2 separate regions of the Homo sapiens genome follow, and region 2 is linked to region 1. Evidence: fine-mapped expression QTL. Tissue or cell type: esophagus muscle. Region 1 holds a variant in brackets; the other region holds the start of a gene. All regions are shown on one strand. Distances are between the middles of the regions.

Region 1 (5,936 bases):
AAAGAGCAACTAACCATTGAAAGCAAACAGGGATGGGAATGCTGTCCTTTGTGCCTTGCTCAGGACAAGCCATGTTTGTCTGCATTTCCAGAGATGCTTAAGAAGGCTTTTTTGTGGCTAGAGAGATCATTCAGGGTCAATCCAAACAAAGCTGGTCCCTGACACAGACTCTCTGAAAAGGCAGAGAGTTGGCAAATTTTGTTCCCTGAGCTGTCCACCAAATCAACAAACTAACTGCATCCCTACTAAGGAAAAGGCTTCTGTTAGATGACGTAGTGTGATAGGAGCTACGAAGCAGGATAAGACATGATCCCTGTCCTTGAAGACATCAGTCTATATGGAAAGATACAACTCAAGTACATTAAAGACAGCTAGCAATACAGGAAATGAGTAGTTCAGAAAACAAACAACAGTCTACAGCTCAGCATTGGGAGGGATCACTGGGAGGTTGGAATGACTAGGGATGGCTTCCTAAGAGAAGTTGCACTGAAGTCAGAACTTGAAAGGAAGATTTTGGAGAAACAGAAGAATGGAACGGATGCAGAAGCAATCAAAGGAATATGTAAAATAGAGTGAAGAAGCCTTTATATACTGATATGGAATGATCTCCAAGAAATGTTGGTAGGTAAAAGGGCAAGATGCAGAGCTGAGTGTATTGTATGCTATCATTTATGTAAGAGGAAGAGACAGACAGAGAGCTAGAGAGAATATTGGCTTGTATATGCATATAAGATTTTGGAAGGATACTGAGAACTAATGACATTGATCATCTTGGGAGAGGGGAACTGGTTGGCTGGGGCATAGGCATGGAAGAAAGACACAGATATTCCACTGTATTCCCTTCTGTATCTTTTAAAATATGAAACATGATTTCTTAAAAAAAACAAGAGTAAAAAACCGGAGTGGAAGAAGCAATAGAATACTTACAGCATATTTTACGGACTACTTGAGGTAAAACAGAAGGATTGAGGAGTAGTAAAATGTTTCCATGATGCTCATGACAGGGTCTAAAATTGAATAGGTTATTTTCAAAACATGGATATGCTATAAAGAGAAACTGAGGTCAGGAGTCATTGAAGACAGAGGGAGTAGAGAAAAGACACTTGTAGTTTAAGGGTGTGGAAATGGTCCCTGGTCCCTGCAACCCTGACCAGCAGGAGGATTTCTGGAAACCTAGCAGAATGCCATGATTCTGCCAGTCATCCTGAAGTGGGCTTGACCCTAACACGTCTGACCATGAGAGCTGATCTTTCTATTGCACTTTGTGCTTTGACAGACCCCACCTATTGGCTGACTTTTGGAGGAAAATGGAAGTGAGAATGAAAAGTTAAGTTTGATTTTTTTTTTCTACTGTCAAAAAGACAAGTGAACCCTTTTAACACACTGTCTTTCAGAGATGAAGCTCTTTTAGTTGCTTTTCTTTTCTGCACACAACATTTCACCACTAATCCTCAAATCCTCTGCAAATGCCAGAAGCCGGGCCAAGCCTTTGCCTGGTGAAACTTTAGTAGTACAATATGGCCTTTCAATAGAAATGCATTTCTCTGCATTATCTTCTCGTGATCACAAAGAAATAGGAGACAATGGGCCATGTGTCTTGGAGGAAGCAGTGCTGCTTACATGGTCCCAGTCAGGCACAAGAAAGTCCTGACGGTATTTAGGGAGCAGCGTTTCAGAGCATCATTGCCACCTGGGCAAAGGTGGGGAAGAGGTTTCCATCATGAACGGAATAGCTCTTACTTCCATAATGATGTGATGCAGATCAGGCAAACCCCGATCTTCGGCTGCCATTCTGCTTGGCTGAGAGCTGTTTTAGGGGATCGAGGAGCTCTCAGGGCCACATCACCTGGGCTCAACAGGGTATCTTGCTGAGTTTGAATGCTGAGACTGCCAGCAGAGCCCCAAATAGTCCTCGGATCCAGAAATAGCCTGTGGCAATTATGTTTTGTCTTCCTACTGCAAGGAATCCTTTCATTTTTTCTCATCTGTGAAGACAAATCTTCCAGTGTTTCTGGCAAATGAAAGTCCAAGATTAGCTGAAAATATCTATGAACAGACCCTGCAGCAATTGGCAATCTCGTCCCTGGGGTATGGAGATACTAACAGGATCCTAATAACTGGAACAGGAAGCACTGCTGCACCACCCTTCCCCAGTCCTGTCCCAGCCCTCCAGTGATCCAGCGCCCAACCCCACCTGCCCACACACTAATGGCCCACAGCTAACCCAAAGGACAACATTTTACCATTTTACTAAGGGACAAAGAACCATACTGATGCTGCATTTTCTGTCCCTGGGACTGTCTCTCCCTCTCTGTTTCATACTGGGAGCTCACAAAGGCTGAGACTTCAAATCATTCTTCAGGAAAGATGAGTCTATAATATCACACTTACTTACCTAGACTACTTCTGGAACTTGACTTTGACCTCCCCCTAAGGCAGGCAACAAGGTTGACAAAGGTTAATAGCAGGAAACAGCACAGAAACCTAACCCAGTCTCGAATTTTAAATAAACCCAGATAGAGAGGCCTGAGGATGAGGAGATGGCCTCCATTGAAAACAAAACACATTGTGTCTGATAAAAGGATGCTAGCTTTCTCCTGCAGCATCGAAATTCCTGTGAAAATGTTTGTTCAGTCTTATTTTAAAATTGTGTGGCTAAATAGGTTTGCTGACTTTAAAGTTGCCTGCAATTTTAAATAATTTCAACCCCTTTAAAAAGTTGAATTGCTGAGTCAAGTACTTAGAGACAAGGAAATAGGGGTTGGTTAGTGAACAAGGTTACTCCATGTTTTGTTACTACAAAAAAGCACCCCACAGAGAACAAAGGAAAACAAAATCAGACGAGACTCAAAAAGAGAGGGGAGCCGTCTTGAGATCTCTATGCATAATCTTCCCAACTGTTCCACAAAAGTCTCAGAGTTCAGTCTCTTGGGACACATCTGGGCCCCTGCCTATTTCTTGTTGCTTCCATTGGCTAGGCCTGGATCACTGGCCATCTCTGGATCTAACTTTGTGCCCAGTACATCCAACCCACATGGGCAGGGCTGGTGGAAGGGTTGGCTTCCCAAGAGCTATCTGCATACTAATAACCGGAAAAAGAAGAAGGAAATGTTGTACACACTTACAAAGCTTTTTAAGAATATGCTATACTGAGCATAATATTTTACAGAGTAACACTTTAATAAAGACATATTTGTGATTGGAATGGATTCTAATTGAGAATGGGCTGAGCTAAAAAGGGTTAAAGCAAAGCTATTACTGACTAGCTAAGAATAGAAATAGTATACCTCTTTGGTACATAGAAGACCCCATCATCTTTTTACATTCTATTTTTTCCTACTTGTTATTTATTTATTTCATTTAATAAGTAAATTAGCTTAAGTCTTGTTATCATACATAGTTATATTCTTAATGTAAACATGAATTTAATATTCCTTGAGGGCTCTTAATTGGCCAGTCTCTGACTGAACTAGAATGCATGGTACGTGCTTCAC[G/A]CCAAGGATATCACAGTCTGCTATAAAGGACCAGAGCCCAGATAGGAAAGTAGATGGACTCTTTGTAACACACATTGTAAAAATCCCAGCTGTCAATCATGTTTCTCATTTTTATCAGGTCTACCTACTTCTAAAGTGAACAACTAGAATGCCATTCATTTATGAATTCAAAAGCTGTTATCAATCACCAGCTGTTTACCAGCCACTGTTCTAGGTAAGCATGTTATTCTTGAAGAGATTACAGTCTCATGTAGAAGAAGAATAAGAAATAGACGAGTTTCCTGAACTGTACTAAGTTTAAAGTCAGGTAAAATCATAGGGTGCTGTGGAAGCACAGAAAAGGCATCTCAAGCCCTGCTGCGGCTGGGGGTATGGGGCAAGGTAGCCATGATTCCTGGAGAGGTGGATTCTTGAAGGAGAGAAGGGCGGGGCTGGAGGAGCATGGACCCGCAGAACCCAGCTCACTCTGGTTGCCCTCCAAGACTTGGCCTGAACCTACTTCTTTCAGATTCATTCTTTGCATGAAAAGACAGATGGCAGGAAGTCGGGGTGAGAGAGAATATAGGAGAGGAGGGTGGGGAGTCTCGGATGTGCTGGGGCACTGGCCTTTGAGTGCACACAGCAAGCGCCTGCTTCCTTCAGAGATTATGTCAAAGACAGAGGATCCTCAGGAGGTACCAGTGACGTGCACACATATGGGAGGGAATGCTCCTGCCAAGGAAGCACATCCTGCCAAGCAGTGCAGGCACCTACCACGGTTACCAAGAAAGTTTTTGGCAATCCGTGGGACATGCCACCTTTACCCCCTAGGCCTGAAACAAGGAGGCCCTGGCTGCTCTTCTATACCCTGTTGCTGTTATGGAAATATTTCGGCAGTTTTTAAATAATAGTATTCCTACACAACTGAATGTTTCAGAAATGTTTGTTTTTTATTTTTTATTGTGTGTAGGGTTTTTGTTTTGTTTTTGTGGTTTTTTTTTGTTGTTTTTTTGTTGTTGTTGTTGTTTTGCCACCTAGCATCACGTCCAAGACAATACAAATATTTCAAGCCACATAGGATGCAAATGCAACAAACAGTCACCTCTTTGACATTGCAGACCTCAGGAGAAACAATCACTCATTTCTCCTCCTCTCTTTTCACCTTTCTCCTCCTCCAACCATTTTCTATCTTCTTTTGTTTTTTTATCCATTACAGACAAAGAGACAACCCCACAACATCCAGCCTATGCTCATGGACCTTCCAAACAAGAAGCACCAGACAGAAAGCGTCCTCTCTGTCCCATTGCAGTAACACAAAGGAAAAGGAAGGATTTGAGATTTTGCAAAAGAATTAATAGCATCTTCACAGAGCTGAGATTGCAGGAACAATCTCTTTCCTTCATAAACCTACCAGCTCTCTCTCTCTTTTTCTTAGGTTGAGAAAATAAGAGAGACATCAGCAGGAGAGTTGACTGCTGAAATCCAGTCTTAACCTTTGAAAATATAATTTATTTAAACCCAGCGTATTACAGAAAGCCCAGCGTGGATGGCGGATTAGGTGGCTGAGGCAGCTTCAGTCAAAGAACAGGATAAACTGAGTGTCTCCCCTGAGATCATTCCTACGGGATGAAAATGCTTTCAGCCAAGATACTGAAATAAAAGGTCCTTGCCTGGTGGGAGAATGGATGGTAGGTGAGATGGCAGTGGAGCCTCCCAGGGGCAATGGCTAGTGAGTAGCAAGCTGCATCCATTTGGAAATCTCCCTGGGAGTGCAAAGAGGATGAAGGACAAAATGGCTTCAAAAGCTTCTAAGGACCACCAGCAAAATCATGGCCCAGACAGGGCTCTCCCTATATTCACACAGCTGTCACCACCCAATTGACCTGGCAAAGTAAACAGGAGACCAAGGCATGTCTGGAAAACACGTTTGGGCCAAAAACCCATTAAGGTAATTTTCAACATACAGGCTCATCCTCTGGGGACTTACAGCTACTCCCTTGATGGAACTATAAGTAGACAAACAGTACAACATCTACTTACTCTCCCAAAGCCTGTCAAAGTTGCTGTAGACCGACCCAAATGGCCTGATTGGGGTGCACAGAGAGAAGTGAGTAAAGAGAGAGAAGAAACACCAAGACAAATTCTACATACACTTTTTGTACTCTGTTGTTAGTTTTTTTTTTTTCTGATCCAAAATGAACTTCATAGGAGAAATTTAGTATCAGTGAAAATGGGCTCAATTGCACAGTTCAGATTTCAAATATTTTCCCTGTGTAGCAATCATTCGTAGTGAATTTGCCTTTTTTTCAGTAGGAAAGAAGTCACAGGACATTCATTCATGTATTCATTCAACAGAAATACATTGGGCATTTGTGATGTGTTGGACCCTATGGAGGTAGTGGGCAATGCAGCAATGAACAAAGTAATCCCAACACTTGCATTCCTGAAGCAGATCATCTGGCA
Region 2 (5,409 bases), 750 kb after region 1:
TCTCACTACCTATTTTCTCAGCTGTCGAATGCAGGTAACTTCTGCTCTGCTACTTCACTTAGGATGGAAGAAGAGGAAGAAATACATCACCTATTCACTCAACAAACACTTTGAGAAAATACTAGGGAAGCCACTTATACTTCTAGGGATATAAAGATGAATACTAGAGGGTTCTTGTCCACAAAGATCTCAACATTTCACACTTAGGATACCAAAAAAAGCAGCCTATGATAGAAGAGAGGCCACTGAATTTTGAGTCAGAACGAGGCAAATATCCTGACTTGATCACTTACACATAATTAGTCTCTCCTTCATCATTGGAAATACAGGATTTTTGTGAAACATAATGTGTATAAAGGCCCTAACAATGTGCTAGCCACATAAAAAACAGTCAATAGATGGTATTTATTATTTTTGCTATGGATGAGTGTTAAAATAATAGATATGTAAAATGTAAAATGCTACAGAGCTTAATAGGGAATAGTACTGGGGGAGGAGGGAGAGGAATAAGATGATTCTTCAATTGGACCTGAATGTAAGAGTTTTGCCAGGCAAATAAATGCAGAAAAGTGCCTCCCAGCAAGCACAGTGTAACAAAGCACACAAAGGGAAAGAAATTAAAGTGTTTCTAAATGAACAAAATTGTTACAGTGTTTGCTTGTGGGTATTAGTATCTGTTCAGCAGTTATTATGTGGCAAGTACAAATTTATCTTTACAAAAACCCCTGTGAGGTAGATATTGTACTCCCCATTTGACAGATCAGAAAACAGGGGTTTAGCAAGGATAAACAACCTGCACGGTAATACATGGATGCTATGGGGTAGAGCCAAGGGAACAATCCAAGTGTGTCCGACTCCAAAGGTTATGCTCTTGGAAAATCAAACTGGAGAGAATGGCAGCTCTTATAAAGCATGCCAAGGATGTGGTCATTTATTTAGGAAACAAAGGGGAAACATTAAAGGTGTACAGGCTTGACACATTCAAAGCTGTGTTTTCAAAAGTCGTTCTGCAAAAGTGTGGGGGATGGGCTGGCACAGTTAACATCAGAAAGCAGCTAAAATACTCCTGCAATTGCTCGAGGCTATGATGAAGGCAGCAGCATCAGGAATGGAGCGGGGCTGCCCTGAGACACCTCAGAGGCAGGACAGTGGTAGTGGGCATGAAAGGGGAAGCAGAAATGCCATGACTCCTGGGTTGGTGGCTTGGATGGTGCCATTAGCAGGCTTTGGGAATCCCATTTTCACTCATGTGACGTTTGATGATGTCTGCATGTGAGACATCCAGTGGAACCTATGAACATGAAGTTCAAGAAATAAGTCTGGCGGAAGAAAGAGATTTGCAATTTAAAACCATCTTAATAGGTAAGAATAGATAGGTGCACGAAGACACGCACAGGAAGAAGGGGAAGGCCGAGAAAACAGATGCACAGGCGCTAGAAGAGACTGGCCAACATTCGCTTATTCTAAGGGTGGCCTGGCCGGCTTGAGCCCCCACGGGAAACCTGGCTAGCCGCAATCCTGGCGTGGCACGGCCCTGGGGACCCCAGGCACCGCCGACAGCCGGGCGCCCCCACCCCGCCCCCACCGGCACCCCGGCCCGGGCTTAGGCATCGTCGGGGACGCATAGGACCCTCGCCCTGGCCCCCGGGCCTCCCGGCTGCATCTGCTCACCGAGTCTAAGATCCAGCGGACACCAGGGCTGCAGGCCGCTACCAAGGCCCCGCAACGCCACCATGATCCCAGGGCACCGGCTCGCCGCCGCCGTGCTCAACTTTCAAAGCTCGCTCCCGCGCGCGCGCCGAGTCGTTCCTGTGGACCAATCACAACGTACAGAATTTCCCACTGGCCAACCACCGCGCCGAGCCGTTTCCATTCGCTCAACCAATCACCGGCGTCGTCCGCCGCACGCTCAGAGAACTGGGCGGGCCGAAAAGTGGAAGCCAAACAAGGCTCCTGCGGGTGTTCCGCTAATTCGTTCGAGAAGGAGCCAGGGCCTGAGTTAAACCCTAACAGCGTTTTTCCCGCCTCGTTTTTCTTCAATGGGGGAAAATCTAAAGGGTATCTGAGATAGGGTACTTCCGGTAGTAACTGTCACCTTTGCCCTCGTCAGGCGACATTTCGCGTGCGTGTCAAAGGGCTGCCTTTCCCGTCAGCACTCGAACAGCGTAATATCCGAATGTGAAAGGCAGCCCAACGTGTATCGAGCTAAAGTAATAAGGGAAAAGTAGCCGAAAGCACTCCGAGAAGACAAGACAACTGCAGTTCTGTAGGGACTGCGCGGCACGCGTGGGCCCAGAGCCTGTCCCAGCGAGGTAGCAGCTGCCATGCCGACCGCTGGAGCGCCGGCCGCGCTCTCCCTGCGCATGCGCAGCGAGCTCTCCTCCGGGCTGCCGGGAGTCCCAGGAGCGTTAGGGGGTGCGCCTGCGCGCCGCTGCTCCAGCGCATCCGGGCTGGAGCTCGCCCGCCCCCTCCCCCGCCCGGAGCCGCCGAAGCGCCTCGGTGCGTTGCACCGCCGGAGGCTGGGCAGCTCGCAGCGCTGCTCGGCGCTGGACCCCACCCGGCAGGCGCAGGCCACCCACACCCGGCTCTGTGCGGCTGCCCCCCGCAGCATTGCACGGCCGACCCTCGCCCGCCCACTGCCACCGGCCGCGGGACTGGCTGGGACTGGCTCGGCCGAGGGCACTGCTCCTCGGTGCATTGCTGCTCGGGCGCCGCAGCCCGCAGCCGCCAGCCTCCCCCGGCCGTGCCCCTCCCCCGTGGAGCCGGCTGTCCGTCGGCGCCCACTGCCCGGCGGCAGCGGCGGAGCCAGGCAGCCCCGCGGCGGCCGAGCGCGCTCGCGCATCGGGCCCTCTGGCCTTCTTTACCTAGGGCAGCCCGCGCCCCGGTGCGAGGGAGCGGTCCTTACCGAGACCCGCCCGGCCCGGCGGTGCGATGAGCTTCTTCGGCTTCGGGCAGAGCGTGGAGGTGGAAATCCTTCTGAACGATGCAGAGAGTAGGAAGCGGGCCGAGCACAAGACGGAGGACGGGAAGAAGGAGAAATATTTCCTCTTCTACGACGGGGAGACGGTCTCCGGGAAGGTGAGCCTTGCCCTCAAGAACCCCAACAAGCGGCTGGAGCACCAGGGCATCAAGATCGAGTTCATCGGGCAGATCGGTGAGTCGACCCCCGGGACCCCCTCCCCCAGCGCCGACAGCCGGCCGGGGAGCAGGGTGATTCAGGGCCCAGCTCCTCCGGCGAGGCCTGTCACAGTCGCTTGTCAACTGCAGTCTGAGGCCTGGGGTTCAGCTACAAGTCCCGCCCGTGGGCGACTCCCCCTGCGTTACTGTCCTCCCTGCCAAAAGTGACAGCGCGCTGCCAGGGAGATGGGGACGGCGAGGGCGGGAGGAAGCGCCCTGCTGTGCCTCGTGGGATGGGCACCTTGCCTATGGGTTCTCCCCATTGTCTCCGGCATGCACTCGGCTTTGCTTCTTGTCCCCAGGATTTCTGGGTGAGGTGCTCTGGCCATAGCCTGCAGGTGGGTTTGTTAGGGGGAGACCGCTCTGCCAATACTGGCTTTCCCATCGCCCGGCCATCTGCAACTGCCAGACGCAAAGTGAGGCTCGTCCACCGAGCCCCACTTCCCAGAGCCCGCACCAACCCGTTTTTCTCTTTAGATGTGGTGTGAGAGAGCTAACCAGTTCTCTCTTACCTCACCTCAGCCCTGAACTACCTATGCTTGTACATGTTTCCAGAAAGAAGACCCATAATCTTCAGTCTAAATCTGACTACCTAGGCTGCGTTTCTTAGACTTCTTTATTAGAATGCAAGTTTTCAGTTACCACATTTTCTGTTTAAAGACAAAGAAATGGTGTTTCTAAAAACCACAATTAAGTGATCAGAGTTTCTCAATGCTTTAAACATGATTATTAATCATTGGAACTAGACAGCGCCAGGCACAGTGGCTGATGCCTACAATCCCAGCACTTTGAGAGGCTGAAGTGGGAGGATTGCTTGAGGCCAGGAGTTGGAGACCAGCCTGGGCAATATAGCAAGACCTGCCTCTACCCCCAAAAATTTTTTTGTAATTAGCTGGTCGTGGTGGTGCTTGCCGGTAGTCCTAGCTCCTCGGGGGGCTAAGATGGGAGGATTGTTTGAACCCAGGAGTTCCAGGCAGCAGTGAGCTGTGATAACACCACAGCACTCCAGCCTGGGTGACAACCAGCAAGACCCTGTCTCAAAAAAATAAACAAATAAACAAATAAGAACTAGACAGTAAAAGGCAGTAATGGTAAAGTGATTTGGGGAGCTCCCAGTCAAGACTGGGTCGTCTCCAATTCTAAGCCTTATTTAGACTCTTGTGTATTATTAAAATGCTTGGGTACTTTTAAAATAAGTTGTTTTTGTCGTTAGGTTAGGAGTAGAATCACAGTAAATACCCTGTGAGCTACACACCTCTGGTAGAGAATCCATACCGATACCACACACTGCATACATAACTCTGTTTTTAGAGACTTCCTTGGGGAATCTTTGTTAAACTCTCTTATCCTGAGAGTTTAGCAAAGAATTTGCCGTCTTTTTTTCACAGAGGCAGGAAACACGGAGACACAGGTAGGAGAAACCCTGGGAAAAGGAGGCCTTGTGGCCTGGCTCTTGGGTTCACTGCTCAGCCTCAAGCATTTTGCCTCTGGTATTTAAGAACATGAAATCAGGTTGAAGACTGGCTGATCTTACAGGAAGCTCTTTGTTGTTATTTTAAAGCCAGAATATGAAAGGTCTTAGTGTACCAGAAAAGGGGCCGAAGAGTGAGTTCCATGCCTTCTGCTTTCCTGCTTCTGGGTTCAATGGTGGGGTAGATGGCAAGGTTCCTCAGTAGCAGCACTGTGATGTCTGGCATCGTTTGGCATGTTGTCATGGGATGTTTAGCAGCATTCCCAGCCTCTACTGACCAGACAACAGTAGCATCCCCCACTTGCGACCACAAAAATGTCTTCAGATATTGCTGTATATCCTCTGGAGGGTAAAATCATCTCTAGCAAAGAACCCCAGGATAAACAGGATGAGTCCAAAGCATATTATGCTACGCATAGTAAATAGTCGAGAAATCCTTGCCTATTGAGCAAGGTATTTTTTAGTAGCAGTTTTAAAGTTATTGCATTGATTCTTTGGCTCCATAATAATAATTAGTGTTGGCAGGCATGTTTAGTCTGTGTCTATACCATCACTCCCAGATGGTGGTACCTTACCAGTATGTGAAAGATAACCCAGAATGTCTTCTGCCCCAGACAGTGTGAAATTAGCTGTTCTAGGAACCGTGTCAAGGCCTTCCTCTGGTCTAAATGAAAGGGAGTTGAAGAAACTGCTTGCTGTTCCTGCCCCACCTGATTTCTTGTCTATCTCCTTACTCCTGAGACATCCATCATCCCTGCTGA

Which allele goes with the higher level. Positions count from the first base shown, and alleles are read on the strand shown. Sizes are in standard deviations (SD) of each study's normalised expression.
In carriers of allele G in region 1, the expression in esophagus muscle of the gene that starts at base 2,480 in region 2 tends to be lower than with A alone (moderate effect, 0.54 SD a copy in GTEx).

The links. PIP is the estimated chance that this variant, and not a neighbour inherited with it, causes the effect.
Region 2: VPS26B starts here. The variant in region 1 is fine-mapped to the expression of VPS26B in esophagus muscle (GTEx, PIP 0.99).

What each region holds. Positions count from the first base shown.
Region 1 is chr11:133,470,747-133,476,682 of GRCh38, forward strand. The region is part of intron 1 of OPCML (opioid binding protein/cell adhesion molecule like); the gene reads right to left. Among named protein-coding and RNA genes, the nearest start is that of OPCML, 59 kb to the right of the region's middle. The variant G/A (reference allele first, on the strand shown) is at 3,495.
Region 2 is chr11:134,222,192-134,227,600 of GRCh38, forward strand. It overlaps VPS26B (VPS26 retromer complex component B), which reads left to right and starts at 2,480. Exons shown (of 6, transcript NM_052875.5): 1 at 2,480-3,154. The coding sequence starts at 2,932. It overlaps NCAPD3 (non-SMC condensin II complex subunit D3), which reads right to left and starts at 1,776. Exons shown (of 35, transcript NM_015261.3): 1 at 1,672-1,776. The coding sequence starts at 1,735. RefSeq lists enhancers at 2,217-2,266, 3,057-3,116, 3,217-3,366 and a silencer at 2,387-2,856.